4 linked regions of the Homo sapiens genome follow. The protein of the gene in region 4 interacts with the protein of the main gene of each other region in a pairwise test. Each region holds a gene or a part of one and is shown on either strand. Other genes may lie near its edges.

What was found. Proteins that work in one complex are often made in the same cells at the same time.
Region 1: the proteins of PRKAA2 (region 4) and GOLGA6A interact in binary tests that used the Homo sapiens proteins (3 or more experiments, as listed by UniProt).
Region 2: the proteins of PRKAA2 (region 4) and GOLGA2 interact in binary tests that used the Homo sapiens proteins (3 or more experiments, as listed by UniProt).
Region 3: the proteins of PRKAA2 (region 4) and L3MBTL3 interact in binary tests that used the Homo sapiens proteins (3 or more experiments, as listed by UniProt).

Annotation. Positions count from the first base shown.
Region 1 is NC_000015.10:74,072,551-74,076,050, forward strand, and holds part of GOLGA6A (golgin subfamily A member 6A), read right to left. Parts: intron 3,436-3,500; coding exon 3,349-3,435; intron 3,241-3,348; coding exon 3,133-3,240; intron 2,941-3,132; coding exon 2,853-2,940; intron 2,452-2,852; coding exon 1,943-2,451; intron 1,667-1,942; coding exon 1,598-1,666; intron 268-1,597; coding exon 192-267; intron 1-191.
Region 2 is NC_000009.12:128,259,008-128,262,507, forward strand, and holds part of GOLGA2 (golgin subfamily A member 2), read right to left. Parts: intron 2,751-3,500; coding exon 2,661-2,750; intron 2,555-2,660; coding exon 2,447-2,554; intron 2,253-2,446; coding exon 2,165-2,252; intron 1,796-2,164; coding exon 1,458-1,795; intron 1,183-1,457; coding exon 1,069-1,182; intron 385-1,068; coding exon 160-384; intron 76-159; coding exon 1-75. UniProt on the Homo sapiens protein: Peripheral membrane component of the cis-Golgi stack that acts as a membrane skeleton that maintains the structure of the Golgi apparatus, and as a vesicle thether that facilitates vesicle fusion to the Golgi membrane.
Region 3 is NC_000006.12:130,137,081-130,140,580, reverse strand, and holds part of L3MBTL3 (lethal(3)malignant brain tumor-like protein 3), read right to left. Parts: intron 972-3,500; coding exon 828-971; 3' UTR 1-827. UniProt on the Homo sapiens protein: Is a negative regulator of Notch target genes expression, required for RBPJ-mediated transcriptional repression. It recruits KDM1A to Notch-responsive elements and promotes KDM1A-mediated H3K4me demethylation.
Region 4 is NC_000001.11:56,688,700-56,693,813, reverse strand, and holds part of PRKAA2 (5'-AMP-activated protein kinase catalytic subunit alpha-2), read right to left. Parts: intron 2,421-5,114; coding exon 2,327-2,420; intron 1,457-2,326; coding exon 1,312-1,456; intron 50-1,311; coding exon 1-49. UniProt on the Homo sapiens protein: Catalytic subunit of AMP-activated protein kinase (AMPK), an energy sensor protein kinase that plays a key role in regulating cellular energy metabolism.

The sequences.
Region 1 (3,500 bases), on a different chromosome or scaffold from region 4:
CATCCTTAGGCAACCTGGTGGCCCCCTGCTCCCAGGAGGTCACCATATTGATGCTGAACTTAGTGCGGACACCCGGTTGGCATAACGACCAGCTGTTCTAAAGGTCTCTTCCAACCCCTCAATCCTATGCTGCTAACAGTCCCCCCTTCCTCCTGGGGCTCTCTCCTCTTCCTCTGAGTGGTCTCCTGTACCTTCTCCAGGGAGAGCCACGAGGCTTAGCTGGGTCTCTAGCTGTTGGTTCTGGTGGCTGGCAGCTTCTAGGTGCTCCTAAGGGGACGGGAAACAGAGTGAGAAGGCACGGAGGTTGCCAGGTCATCCCCCTCGGGGCCCCGTCCTCAGCAACTCCCTCCCCTGGGTCTCCTGCAACTTTTGTCCGGCCATCTCAGCCACCGCTTTGCCCCAAGCTTCCTGCTGCTGCAGCTGGTCCACGAACTGGGTCTGCAGCAGTAACTGCCTGTGCAGCGCCTCCTTCTCAGAGGTCAGCTGCTGATAGGTGGCCATGTACTGCTGCAGGTGACCCAGGTACTAGTCTCGCTGCTGCTGCAGACTCTGAGACTCTTGGCTCTTCAGCTCCACCTGCAGGAAGACCCTGGGCATGAGGGCACATGGCGGCTGGCTTCCAGATTCTGGGCCCATTAATAGGGTAGCGAGGGCACCGTGGGGCTCTGTCACCTGCCCAGGACCCTGGTCCCTTGCTCCAGGCCTAAGAGGCTTCCTCCCTTGCCTAGAACCCCATACCTCCTTCCCCAGCCTCAAATCTCATGTCCTTCTTCCCACCATTTAAACTGTAGGCCACAGACTGGTGGAAAAGCAGAGGGAGCCAACCACCATCTGCTAAGTGTGCTACATGCCTAATGCTTTCCAGGTATTCTCTCATTCAATCCTCAGCACCTCTGCAAGGAAAATGCTAACTTCCTTTTGAAGTCACAGAAACAGAGACTTAGAGATGAACAGTAGTTGAATGGTGACCAGTGGAACCCAGGCCAGAATCCAGTTTGAATCTAAGGAGGCTTTTTTGTTTTGTTTTGAGACAGTGTCACTCTGTGGCCCAGGCTGGAGTGCAGTGGTGCAATCTCAGCTCACTGCAGCCTCCACCACGTGGGCTCAAGCGATTCTCGTGCCTCAGCCTCCTGAGTAGCTGGGATTACAGGCATGCGCCACCATGCCTGGCTAATTTTTTGTTGTTGTTGTTGTAATTTTAGTAGGGGTGAGGTTTCGCCACGTTGGCCAGGCTGGTCTCAAACTCCTGACCTCAAGTGATTCTCCTGCCTCAGCCTCCCAAAGTGCTGGGATTACAGGTGCGAGCCACCGTGCCTGGATAAGGAGCCTCTTGTACCACTGTCTCTTCCCCTGTGATTGGGGGCTCCATGTCTCTAGCTGGGATGATGATGTCCAGACCTGGGAGGAGCCCAGGGCTACCCACCTCTAAAAGTCAGAGGGCAGGAAGCAAGAAACAGTCATAGAGCTGCACTGGAGGGTGCTGGGGTCACCTGCCTCCCAGCTGGAGCTGCCTTTGGCCTGGCACCTCCCCTCCCCAGAGGCTGGTGCCCGCCTCCCAGCCCTTCTTGGATGGGGTGGAGGTTACCATCTCCTTCACCTCGTCTAGCTTCTCCTGCAGCTCCTTTACTTGCTGCTCCAACTGCAGTGCGCTCTTTTTCTCGTTGTTCTGGACAGAGAGAAGCAATCAGTGGCCATCCACTGCAGCTGGAGACACCAGACCTTGGTGTCTGCCTCCCATATCACCAGGAAGGGTGGAGGCAGGTTAGAAAAATCATCCCTTCTCCCCCACAGCCATCAGAGCAGAGCCCGATGAGCTGTAGCTCACAGGTGCCTTTAGAAGTAGCATTTCATGTGAGGGCTACACTGGCCCATTTTACAGGTGGGGAAACAAAGGCCTGGAGGGATAGGGATGAGGGCAGGCTCCCCAGGTGGGGCAACCCACCAGATCCTCGAAGCTGCACTGTGGCTCGGCCAGCTGCTTGTCGAGCTTGTGGTTCTGGGAGAGCGCGAGCCTCTCCTCCTGCTTTTGTAGCCTCTCCTCCTTCTTCCACAGCCTCTCCTCCTGGTCCCACAGCCTCTTTTCCTGCTTTTGCAGCCTCTCCTCCTCCTTTCGCAGCCTCTCCTCCTGTTTGCGTAGCCTCTGCTCCTGCTTTCGCAGCCTCTCACCCTGCTCCTGTAGCGTCTTCTGCTGCTCCCGAAGCCTCTCGTTTTGTTCACACAGTCTCTCCTGCTCCCGCACTCTCTGCGCCTCCTGCTCTCGGAGCATCTCCTCCTGCTCCTGGAGTCTCTGCTTTTGTTCCTTGCTAAGGAGACTCAAGGCCTGATTGTTTTCCACCTGGGACTGGAGCTTTCCCTCCAGACCTTCCACCTCCTGCCTCAGGTGTTTGGCCTCATCTTGTAGCTGTTCCACCACAGAGGTCACTGCTGGGGGCGCCAGGGATGGGGGCTCAGCTGAGAAATGAAGCAGACAATAAGGGCCTCTGGATTCCCCAACCCCTCTACCCACATCCCCCTCAAAAAAAAAAAAAAAACCTCCTCTTGATGCACAGCTCCTCTCAGGCTTCCCAAACTTGGCCTCACTGCTAATCATTCCTCGCACCCAATGGTAGCCAATTTCCAAGCCACTTTCACATAGAGAGCACTGTGGGTGGCTGACAACGGGCACTCCTCCCTCTTTGCTGATGGGGACCCTGAGGCTCATGGAGATGACAAAACTTGCCGTCTCCTGGCACAGACCTCTTTCCCTCTGCCTCAAAGCCCTTCCACCCACCCACCTCCCTGGGGCATTCTAAGCCACCCCCACAGACCTCTGATGCCAGTCCTGCTCCGAGGTCACACCAGCCCCATCTTACCCATCTGGTTTTTGAGTTCGGACAAGCTCCTCTCCAGCTCCTGTATCCGATGTATGTCACGCTTCTTCTCTTCCTTCAATGTTCGAGCCTGCCCAAAGCACAGGGGAAAGGGCCCTGGAGAGAGGGGCTGGTGGCTGGACAGGCTACCATCTCATTCTCTGTCCCCATCTCCACAAAGCCCAGACCCATGACCACCTCTGGCTGTACTATTCCCATTTTACAGATGCCCAGAAAGATCCAGTGACCTATCTAAAGTGGGGGCTGAAGGGTCAGACCTCACCTCCACCGACATTTTCCACATCCTCTCCTGCCACCGGGCCCTCTCTCCTTTTATGTGTTTAGCATATTCGTCTCGCTCTAGCTGGACTTGTTTTAGTGACTCTGTCACCTGCAAGAAATGGGCACAGAAGTTAGGAAGGGCTGTCACTGGTCCTCACCTGCTCCTGGCCACCTGGGGTCATCTTCCTTCCACATCCCTCCCTCTGCAAAGCCTCACCTGTGTCACGTGTGCGTTCAGCAGCGCCCGCTCCTTTATGGTCTGCTGTAACCACCGCTGGAGGACCGCTTCTCTGCAGCTCGAGGACTGGATGGTGAAGAGTGAGAAGTTTTGATCTGGGGAGCTCAGGCAGTGCCCCTTAAAAGGGCTAG
Region 2 (3,500 bases), on a different chromosome or scaffold from region 4:
TTCCCCAGGGTGAGCCATGAGGCTCAACTGGGCCCGTAGCTGCTGATTCTGCTGGGTGGCAGCTTCCAGGCGCTCCTAAGGGGCCAGAAAAGAGAGTGAGAAGGCATGGAGGTTGCCAGGTTGTCCCCCTCGGGGCCCTGCCCTCACCAACTCCCTCACCTGGGTTTCCTGCAACTCTTGGCGGGCCATCTCGGCCACCGCTTTGCCCTGAGCTTCCTGCTGCTGCAGCTGGTCCACGAGCTGGGTCTGCAGCAGTAGCTGATTATGCAGCACCTCCTTCTCAGAGGTCAGCTGCTGATAGGCGGCCACATACTGCTGCAGGTGTCCCAGGTACTGGTCTCGCTGCTGCTGCAGACTTTGAGCCTCTTGGCTCTTCAGCTCCACCTGTAGGAAGACCCTGGGCGTGAGGGCAGGTGGTGGCCTGCTTCCAGATTCAGGGCCCATAAATAGGGTAGCGAGGGCTCTGTCACCTGCCCAGACCTCTGGCCCCTTGCTCCAGGCCTAAGTGACTGCCTCCCTTGTCTAGAGCCTCGTGCCTCCTTCCCCAGCCTCAAATTTCACATCCTTCTTCCCACCATTTAAACCGTAGGCCACAGACTGGTGGAAACGCAGAGGGAGCCAACCACCATCTGCTAAGTGTGCTACATGCCTAATGCTTTCCACGTATTATCTCATTGAATCCTCAGCACCTCTGCAAGGAAGATGCTAACTTCCTTTTTAAGTTAAAGAAACTGGGGCTTAGAGATGCAAAGTAGTTGAATGATGACCAGTGGAGCAAAGGCCAGAATCCAGTTTGAATCTAAGGAGCCTCTTATGCCGCTGTCTCTTCCCCTGTGATTGGGAGAAATCCATGCCTCTAGCTGGGACGATGATGTCCAGACCTGAGAGGAGCCCAAAGCTATCCACCTCTAAAAGTCAGAGGGCAGGGAGCAAGAAACAGTCACAGGACTGCCCTGGAGGGTGCTGGGGTCACCTGTGCCCCAGGCTGGAGCTGCCTCTGGCCTCACACCACCCCTCCCCAGAGGCTGGTGCCCGCCTCCCAGCCCTTCTTGGATGGGGCGGGGTTACCGTTTCCTTCAGCTCGCTCAGCTTCTCCTGCAGCTCGCCCAGCTTCTTTCCCAGCTCCCTCTTGACGTGCTGCTCCGACTGCAGTGCGCTGGTGATCTCCATGTTCTCATTAGTCTGGACAGAGAGAAGCAATCAGCGGCCACCCACTGCAGCTGGAGACCCCAGAACTTGCTGCCTTGGTGTCTGCCTCCCATGGCACCGGGAAGGGTGGAGGCAGGTTAGAAAAATCATCCCCTCTCCCCCACAGCCATCGGAGCAGGGCTCTGGCTCACAGATGCCTCCAGAAGTACCATTTCAAGTGAGGGCTACACTGCCCCACTTTACAGGTGGGAAAACAAAGGTCTGGAGGGCTAGGGAGGAGGGCGGGCTCTCCAGGTGGGGCAGCGCACCAGCTTTACAAATCCGCTCTGCAGCTCAGCCAGCTGCTCCTTGAGCTCCCGGTTCTGGGAGAGTGCGCGGCTGATGGTAGTGCGGTCGTTCTGCATGGTCTCCAGGATTTGCCTGCGCGCCTCCGCCTGCTCCCCCCAGAGCTCGGCCGCCCGCTCCAGCTCCAGCAGCCTCTCCTCCTGCTCCCGGTTCAGGCGACTCAAGCCCTCATTGTCTTGCACCTGGGCTTGAAGCTGTCCTGCCAGACCCTCCAGCTCCTTCCGCAGGTGCTCAGCCTCCGCTTGTAGCTGCTGCTCCACCTCGGAGGGCCCTGCTGGGGGCTCTGGGGGCGGGGGTTCAGCTGAGAAAGGACGCAGACAATAAAAGCCTCTGGATTCTCAAAAAAACCCTCCTCTTGGTCCATACCTCCTCTCAAGCTCCCCAAACTTGGCCTCCCTGCTGATGATTCCTCGCACCCGGATGTTAGCCAATCTTCCAAACCACTTTCCGATAGCGACAACTGTGGGTGGCTGACAACGGGCACTCCTTCGTCTTTGCTGATGGGGCACTGAGGCTCATGGAGATGACGAGACTTGCCATCTCCTGGCACAGACCTCTTTCCCTCTGCCTCAAAGCCATTCCATCCACCCAACTCCCTGGGGCATTCTAAACCACCCCCACAACCCTCTGACACCATTCCTGCTCCCAGGTCACCCCAGCCCCAGCTTACCCATCTGGTTCCTCAGTTCAGCCAAGCTCGTCTCCAGCTCCTGTACCCGACTCATGCTACATTCCTTCTCCTCTCTCAATGTGTGCACCTGCCCAAAGCACAGCAAGAAAGGGCCCTGGAGAGGGGCTGGTGGCTGGACAGGCTACCATCTCCCTCTGCCCCCACCGCCACAAAGCCCAGACCCATGACCACCTCTGGCTGTGCTCCTCCCATTTCGCAGATGCCCAGAAAGATCAAGTGACCTATCTAAGGTTGAGGGGGAGCTGAAGGGTCAGGTCTCACCTGCTCTGACATCTGCTGCATCCTCTGCCGCCACATGGCGCTCTCTCCTTTGAGATTCTCCGCATATTTATCTCTCTCCATTTGTAGTTGTCTAACCGACTCCATTACCTGCAAGAATGGCCACAGAAATGAGGAAGGACTGTCACTGGTTGTCACCTACTCCTGGCCACCTGGGGTCATCTTCCTTCTACATCCCTCCCCTGCAAAGCCTCACCTGCCCCAGGTGTGCTTCCAGCTGTGCCCGCTCCTCCATGGCCTGCTGTAACTGCTGGTTAGCATCAGGGGCTTCACACCGGCTTGAAAACTGGATGGTGAAGAGCGAGAAGTTTAGATCTGGGGAGCCCAGGCCGTTCCAAATAGTGCCCCTTAAAAGGGCTAGGGCTAGGCTCAATGTGCAACTCAGTCAATACAACTCTGCTGTCAAGTTTCTTTGCTTTAGAAATAAAAAATAATTTTAAAAAGATCTCAGGCCAGGCATGGTGGCTGATGCCTGTAATCTCAACACTTTGGGAGGCTGAGGTGGGTGGATTGCTTGAGCTCAGGAGTTCAAGACCAACCTCGGCAACATGGCAAAGCCCCGTATCTACAAATACAAAAATTAGCCAGGCATGGTAGTGTGCGCCTGTAGTCCCAACTACTTGAGAAGCTGAGGCAGGAGGATGGCTTGAGCCTGGGAAGTAGAGGTTGCAGTAAGTATCACTCCAGCCTGGGTGATAGAGCGAGACCCCGTCTAAAAAAAAAAAAAAAAAGATCTCTACTCTCTATTATTAGTGAAAGTGTTGGCTTGAACCTCAGAAGGAAATAAACAGACTCATGAGCTAGCCATATAAATGTAATCTCTAAAATAATGGTTTTCACCCATGATGCTTTAAAACAAAACAAAACAAAACAAAACAAAAATTGTCTTAAGCCCTAACCCTAAGATTCTGATTCCCCAGGTCCCCAATTTGTAGATTTTTAGCACTCTCTAGAGGATTTTATGCCAGGACCGGAACAAGGACCCAAATTTTCCAGCTCTTGGCTGGAGTCTCCCCATGCCCTGCATGATCCCTAG
Region 3 (3,500 bases), on a different chromosome or scaffold from region 4:
AACTGCGTACTCCTCTGACACCATCTGGCTCTTGTAAACACCGGGGCACCAAGATGAGTGAGACTGATGCCACTCAAAATACACTACCTAATTTATTTATGTTTATATATTTTATTTTTCAATTTCATTCTTTTATATACATGTTTTTGGTAATTATAGTAAAGATGCTGGTGAAAAGTAATTTGTTTAACATTTCATAATGCGTGCAAAAGGAAAAATACTGATTCAAAGAAAAGTCATTCTTACAACTATTCAGCCCTGACAATTATGACAAGCAGTTAGGCAATATCATGACTTGCAAAGTTATACTTAGCATAATGTTGCAATTCAAAATATGGCACAAAATTAACAATACAGATAACAGTCCTACTGGCTAAACTTAGCCAGGTTTCGACTAATTTGGTTTAAATTGAAATTTGATTATATAAAAAGGTTTCTGAAAGTATTGAAAAAGAAACAGTGTACATGAAAGAGAATTCAACAATGTTTACAAAATGCCAAAAGTTCTTACTCTGCCCCCCATTACCATAAATAATTAATGAAGCCCCCCTTCCCCCCACCCCCCAGACTCAAAAAGATTTACAAAGATAAATTTAGCTCAGTGAACAGAACCAAAAGATGACTGTTGTTAGACAGTACCTGGTTAAAAGCTCAAGCACTTTCATAAGAATTCATATATATTGTCTCTTGAGTAATATAAATAATCCGATAGTGTTGCTCTTTTGAGTTTTGGAGACTTCTCACTTAGGAGTTATAACCGTCCTTGTGCTTTGAATAAAACATGAGCTTTAAAGCAGAATGCTGATGGTATTCAGAATTCACCATCTTCAAAGTTCATTGTGAGAATTCTTCTCTGCAGCTTTGAACATCAGGATGGAATTGAAAATTTTGAGAGCAGGGCCCAGTTTAATGCTCATAATTTTAACAATGTCTGTTTGAGTCATAAGTAGAAATGCTTCTCCATCAATTTGCTAAAATGGGGGAAAAAAACAACAGAATGTGGATTAACAAGATGCAGTGTTGTAGAAAATATTCAAGGTTAAATTACCAGCTGTCTTCTACATAGCAATGCTAAAAAAGCACAGAGAAGTTCACGTGTGCAATGACATTTCTTGATATATGGACCTTTCTTATCCACAATGACACATCCCAAAGTGGACTGGGAACAAAGTAAACTAATTCACCTGAAAAACCAGCCAAAGGAAAACAGAAGGTGCCCATATCTTCCTGTGATTACTCTGAATTAGTTGTAGAGTTAAGAAGAATATGGAAAAATCCAGGATGCCCAAAGTCTAGTTTTTATCATGGCAGGTTTTAAAATTAGAAGAGATAACAGGTACATGAATGTTTGTGGACATAAAATAACTCAGGCAAACATATCAGCTACATGCAACATTTTTTTTTTTTCCAGAATTAGCCTTCCACCATGAAGAAAAGAAAATCAGAAAGATAACACTTATCTCTAGTGTGGCCACAGTTAAGTCTTTACACACAGAAGAAAAGCATTTACTAACGGGGCAATCAAACAGTGAATGTGAGGCTGGTGTTACGAGTCACTGACTTTAAGGTGGTTCTTCTAATACGCAGGTAGGGTAACTATGAGAAAGACCCTTCCTCTCTCTGGACATCTTCTAAGACAAAAGTCTATGCTTCTGAAAAATAGGCTACTATTCTCTAGAAGTTCAAAGGTACAACACATCTTTTAGGTTAAAAGATAAAATACTATGAAAATGATGTCTGGCTTACTGGGCAGAGCAAAGAAACAGTCTTTCATTATGACTTTCAGCTCTTCTATCACCTTAAAAAAAAAAAGTTTCCCTTTCAGTTTTCCCACCTTGTACAAAAAGTAAAACACACTTTTGTTCTCTGCCTTAGAACATCAGAAACCTTGACAGCAACGCACTCCGTTATGGGTTGAATGGTGTCCCTGTCACAAAAATTCGTATATTGATGTCCTGACTCCCAGTACCTCAGAATGTGACTTTTATTTGGAAATAGGGTCAGTGCAGAGGTAACTGGTTAAGATGAGGTCACACTGGAGTAGGGTGGGTGCCTAATCCAATTATGACTGGTATCCTCATAAAAAGGAGAGATCTGGAGAAAGAGACACATATAGAGGGAAGGCAACGTAAAGACCCAAAGAGAGACCACCATCTACAAGTCACATCTACAAGTCAAGGAGAGAGGCCCAGGACAGATTCTTTCCTCACAGCCCTCGGGAGGAAGCAACCCTGCCAACCCCCTGACTTCTAGCCTTCTTCAGATTCTCAGCTTCTAGAACTGTGAGACGATGCATTTCTGCCATTTAAGCCACCCGTTTGTGGTTGGCATTGTTATGGTGGCCCTAGCAAACTAAGACAACTCTAAATTCTGCAAACAGTTCTCTAAACAAGGCTGATATAATTAAATTGCTACTTCTTAAGATTTTCCTCTCTCCTTTAAAAATGAAAGACCTGTAAATATAGACTGCCTAAATGCTTCATCAGTAAGAACTGGAGTCATCTTACACAACTTCTTCAAGTAACAATTATGTGGAAAAAGTGTGCTAATTTCAGTAAAAAGACATCCTGCTGTTGTAAACTAGAAGGAAAGACGTTCCAGTGTTAATCTCCAAGTGTAGCACCGTTAAGCGGCAGGTATGAGAAATGTTCTCCTGTTTTCTGGAAACATTGGTCTGTTCTCATTTGCTTGTGCTATGACAGTCCTCTGATAAAGCAAGGTCAGGAAGAAAGGCAGATCTATTAACACTTCGCTCAACCAAGGCAGACCTTAGTACAATGGACAGCCTTATAGAAGTCTTCTAAGTCATTAATGAAAATGTCAACTGACATTCCCAAGGAGCCCACTACAAAGGCTGACTGGTTTATTACAACCTTGGCCCTACTGAAGGCCTGGCGCAGACAGCAAGTCTCCTTCTGAAACTATGTAAGAGTATAACACAACAGGTAACTGATGAAAAAAAAAAACATCCAGAGAACTTAGTGGCTGGGATTTGAAGTTAAAAGTGGGACAGTAAGGATACATTTTGGTAGGTTGTTATTTATAAGGTTACATACACTAGAAAGAAAAAAAATCTTGAGGCTACTTCCAAACTCTTTATTACATACAGGTTGCTCTGACATGTGGCCATACAAACAAGTCTTGATTGGAAGGAAGTCAACTTAATTCAGGAAAGTACATCCTAAGAACAACAGTGACCACTGCAATGTATTACAAGGCTTACTTTTTTTTCGGTTAGCTTCTGCAATGCATATACAATGCCATTATTCCAGACATTAGGTGTCTTGCTAATGGCCTAAAACAAAGGAGAGGGATTTGGAATTCAGGAGCTCTGGCCTTCCATTTCACTGCCCTTTCCACTATTCACTATTTGTTCTTTTCCAATGCCTTAACTCGAAACCACAGTGACATGCTCTGTCTGAGTGAGTCTTTCTCAGAGTGTAAAGGCATGAATGTATTCACTCAACAAAAATATACTGAATGTCTATTATATTCCAAAC
Region 4 (5,114 bases):
CCGCAACTAGTTCTCAGAAATTCACCATCTGACATCATATTAGATAATCCTAAAAATAAAAGTAATGTTTACTTGGTGCTAGATATTTTTAAAAGTAGATAAAGTCATATAAATATGAGCAAAATTTCAAGTCCTGGATCCTCCATATATCATTTTTTTTTAAGTTATTAAAAAAAAGCAGTGGAAAGCATTTAACTGGAAAGAGACCGTCTCAGAGTGCTTACACTGTAACAAAAAGCTAAAGCACATCACATATATGAGTGAAACTAAATTTCCTTTCTAAATAAAAATGTTGATTCCCATCACAAATGAGGTTATTCTGAAGCATATTAACTTTCCCAAACATGAAAACATCAAAATATTATTTACCTATTTCCATAGTTGAAAGAATAAAATAGAGACTACTACTTTTTTGCCCTGTGCTTTCAAAAGCCTCTTTAAATTCTGTAATTAGAAACCAGATGGGCCCCACCTCATAAAGAGATTATGTTCCAAAAGTTTTTAATTTAGAAATATTTAATTCAACATGGAAAAAATAATCTATTGAACCAAAAATCTAGCTGAGCTATAGTAATAAATAAGTTTCATGATTTAGAGAAGGAAGAGAAATAGAGAAAGTAGTTTCTAGGTTTTTAGATTAAAGACAAGGTATAGACCACAAATAGGCAACAATAGCCTGTACCTTTCTATCTCTTTCTCTTTAATCTCTCACTTCCTAGTCTTTTTCTCAAATACCCTATTAAGGCATCCTTTCCACGTATGTTTATCCCAGAAAGTGTTTGGAGTATAAAAATCACATTTTATGTACCTTTTACCCCTGACAAAAACTGTTCTCTAATCAAGTTATTAGACGTTACACCTAAGGACCTCTTTGTGGATCAGTTCAGAAGGGCTTTTTTCCAACTGCATGCATATTTTCAGGTACCTTGGTTTATATGCATTCATCAGGGAAAGTGCCCATACTTTCATGAGATTTTCAAAGAAGTCTGGGACTCCTCCCCTCTCTTCAAAAAAAAAAAAAACAAAAAAACAGTTATGCATCATTTCCTTAGGAGAAAATGCAGATTGAATGGATTTATCTTGATGACAACCTTCTAACTTCTCTAGAGGTATCTGCATTTTTAAAGTGTATTTAATGAAAATTAATGAAAATTTAATTAAATGAAAAAAAAAAGCTACTGAGGAGATTTCAGCTAATTCCTTTTCATGGTACAGAACGTACAAGGTTGAAAAGTAAAGTTCTTAGTTCAATGAGTTGTTATGCTTTAAAAGGTAGCTAGTACCTTTCTGAACAACCCTGGAGTTACATACCGAAATCGGCTATCTTGGCATTCATGTGTGCATCCAACAGGACATTCTCTGGTTTCAGGTCTCGATGAACAACCATATGCCTATGACAGTAATCCACAGCAGACAGAATCTGCTGAAAGAGCCGCCTGGCTTCCATCTCTTCAACCTATCAAGCACAAAAGAAACTGCATTAAGAATATCTGGGGCTGGGCACAGTGGCTCATGCCTGTAATCCCAGCCAAGGCAGGTGGATTACCTGAGGTCAGGAGTTTGAGACCAGCCTGACCAATAAGGTGAAACTCCATCTCTACTAAAAATACAAAAATTAGCCGGGCATGGTGACATGCACCTGTAGTTCCAGCTACTCAGGAGAGTGGGACACGAGAATTGCTTGTACCAGGAGGCAGAGGTTGCAGTGAGCTGAGATCATGCCACTGCGCTCCAGCCTGGGCAACAGAGCAAGAGTCTGTCTCAAAAAAAAAAAAAAAAAAAAAATCTGAGACATCTATTTGACAAGAGTTTTAATTTCATAATTAGGCTAAATATAATTAAGCAAGCTAGAATTATGTTGGAATTCTCAACAAATCAGACAAAATAAACCAACCAAAAGCTTGTCAAAGCTCAACATGTCAAAAGACAAGTTTGTCTTTGTCGCTAAGCAGAAATATTTAAATTTCAATTAATATTATTAAATGTGCACAATGTTTTGGGGAATTGACAGTAAAACAAACTAAAACAGAACATATGTGAAAGTGCTAAGAAAAGGAAATAACTGATCTTCAACATGATTTTATGGAACAGATTTTAAAAAGCATACGCATCATGTTGGCAATTAAGTGAAACATATTTTCTAAAATCAGTATTTCAAAAGGAATGCTTTTTAAGAAAGAAAATTTATCTAACACTCTACATGTTTAGTTGAGCACTACCATAAAAGCAACTTCAACCTTGAAGATATCTTTGCATTGTTCTATGTCCCAATACTTTCCTTTTTATTAGTTTAGAGATTTAGTGTACCAGATAGTATGTTACTCACCCGTCCATGCTTACAGATGTAGTCAAATAATTCACCTCCAGACACATATTCCATTACCATAAAAAAATCTGTTGGAGTGCTGATCACCTGGTATCTTTTTTGTTAATTAAAAAAAGTTAACAAAGTATGTTACTTTAACCAAAATCAAACTGGTATATCTACTCTTGCTACAATTTTATATTTCAATGTTTTATAATACTTTAAGATGGCAACAAATTACATGTTATCAAAATAATCACAGAGCAATAAACACGGACCATTACAAAATTATTCTATTTCTTGAGGCTCACGGCCGTTCCTTTAGATCCTCCCTTTCAAGTTTACATAATTTTTGAAATCTTTCCCTCTTCAACAACTAATTTTTCCATATAAACAAAAATTTGTTTACAGTAAAAGGAGATGAGGTATCACATATTTAAAGATAAACAGAAAATATACTTGGGCCAGACACTATGGCTCATGCCTGTAATCCCAGCACTTTGGAAGGCCAAGGTGGGAGAATCACTTGAGCTCAGGGCAATGTTTTGGGGAATTGACAGCAAAACAAACTAAAACAGAACATACATGAAAGTGCTAAGAAAAGAAAATAACTGATCTTCAACATGATTTTATGGAACCGATTTTGAAAAGCATAGGCTTCATGTTGGCAATTAAGTGGAATATATCTTCTAAAGTCAGTATTTTACCAGCCTGGGCAACATAGCAAGACCTCATTTCTGTAAAACATACATATATTTTCCTGGACACGTAACATGATACTACAGGGATACATTCAGCAAAATCCAGGAAGTGAAAAATGACCATTTCCTCAACAAATAAAATGCAAGAAAAAAAGGGAAAGGATAAACTATACGTTAAAAGTAACTTAAGAGACATATTGACCAATTATGCTGTATAGACTTATTTTGATTCTGATTCAAATAAACCAACTTTAAAAACCATTTATGAAACAATCAGGAAAGTCTACATGCTGATTAGTGGTGGATAATGTTGTTAATTATTTTAATTAAGATGTGATAGGCCGGGCGTGGTGGCTCACGCCTGTAATCCCAGCACTTTGGGAGGCCGAGGCGGACAGATCACAAGGTCAGGAGATTGAGACCATCCTGGCTAAACCAAACACGGTGAAACCCCGTCTCTACTAAAAATACAAAAAATTAGCTGGGCATGGTGGCGGGCACCTGTAGTCCCAGCTACTCGGGAGGCTGAGGCAGGAGAATGGCGTGAACCCGGGAGGCAGAGCTTGCGGTGAGCCAAGATCGTGCCACTGCACTCCAGCATGGGCAACAGAGCGAGACTCCGCTTCAAAAAAAAAAAAAAAAAGATGTGATGATACTATGCTTATGTTATTTAGAGTTTAAAAAAGTATTTTCTAGAGTAGATACTGAAGAGTTTACAGATTAAAAAGATAATGTTGAGATTTGCTTCAAAATAATCTGGCGTAGATAAAACAATGAATTGACTACTGTTGAAGGTGAATAAGACATGCATGGGGTTTCACCGCGTTACTTTTGTAAATGTTAAACAATTCCCATCATGAAAAATTAAGAGTGTGTGTGTGTGTGTGTGTGTGTGTGTGTGTGTGTGTGTCTGTGTGTCTGTGTTTCTAGGCATCCAAAGCTGGGCACATTAAAAACTAAGAAAAAAAATTAGCTTTATTTGATAAAATAAATTTTTTTCCCAAAAACTACAACTTACACCCCTATACACAATTTTACCAAACCAAGTTTTGGAGACGTTAAAATTAGTTACTTTTTTTCTTTTGTTTGAGACAGAGTCTTGCTCTGCCACTCAGGCTGGAGTGCAGCGGCCATGCTCTCGGCTCACTGCGCACCCCACCTCCTGGGTTCAAGAAATTCTCCTGCCTCAACCTCCCGAGTAGCTGGGACTACAGGCATGCACCACCATGCCCGGCTAATTTTTGTATTTTTAGTAGAGAGGGGGGTTTCACCATGTTGGCCAGGCTGGTCTCGAACTCCTGACCTCAAGTGATCTGCCCGCCTTGGCCTCCCAAAATGCTGGGATTACAGGCATGAGCCACCAAGCCTGGCCAGAAGAAATATTTTGAATGGCAATCATTAGTCTTTGGGAAGAAACATGGCAAGGTATTCTAATTTATATAAAATAAACGAATATGACTGAAGAAGAATTGAGACTATTTCAAATGAACTTTGGAAAGGTAATTATACTGAGAACTCTAGAAGAAATAGTTTTATAAAAGCTATCTTTACAAGCACCAAAGTGATCACGTAAACTGAATACTGTAGGGCAGGTGCATCTGCTGTAGCACCTCACTGTAGGTTGGTCTGATTTAGTAACAATTTTCAATCACTTTTGTGCTCTGTACATCCTAGATGGGGCACAAAAGAAAAGAAGTGATGACATTCTAATAAATAAATTTAGCTGCCATTTCTGAGTATATCACAGGTCTTCAACAGATATTCTTGGAATTAATTATTTCATGAAACCTCTAAATCCTTAGCAGCCACTGTCTTACACTAAAGGCCAGTCTAGAGCAATGAAAATCATAACGTTACTAAGCACTTACTGTCTGCCAGGCACTAAGCTATTAAATGGTGACACAACATTTATTGAGTACCTACTTGTATTGTACTCGGTGAGATCAAAAGTTGGTGCCTCTACTCGTGGAGCTTACAGTTTAGCCAGAAAGACAGACATTAAATAAAGATTCTCTTCAAACACAAATATGATCTCCAGTAGCCTCTCAATTTAGAATCTTCAAAGGTTTCCCATTGCTCTTAGGTCCTGAATAAATCAGGCCCTTGCC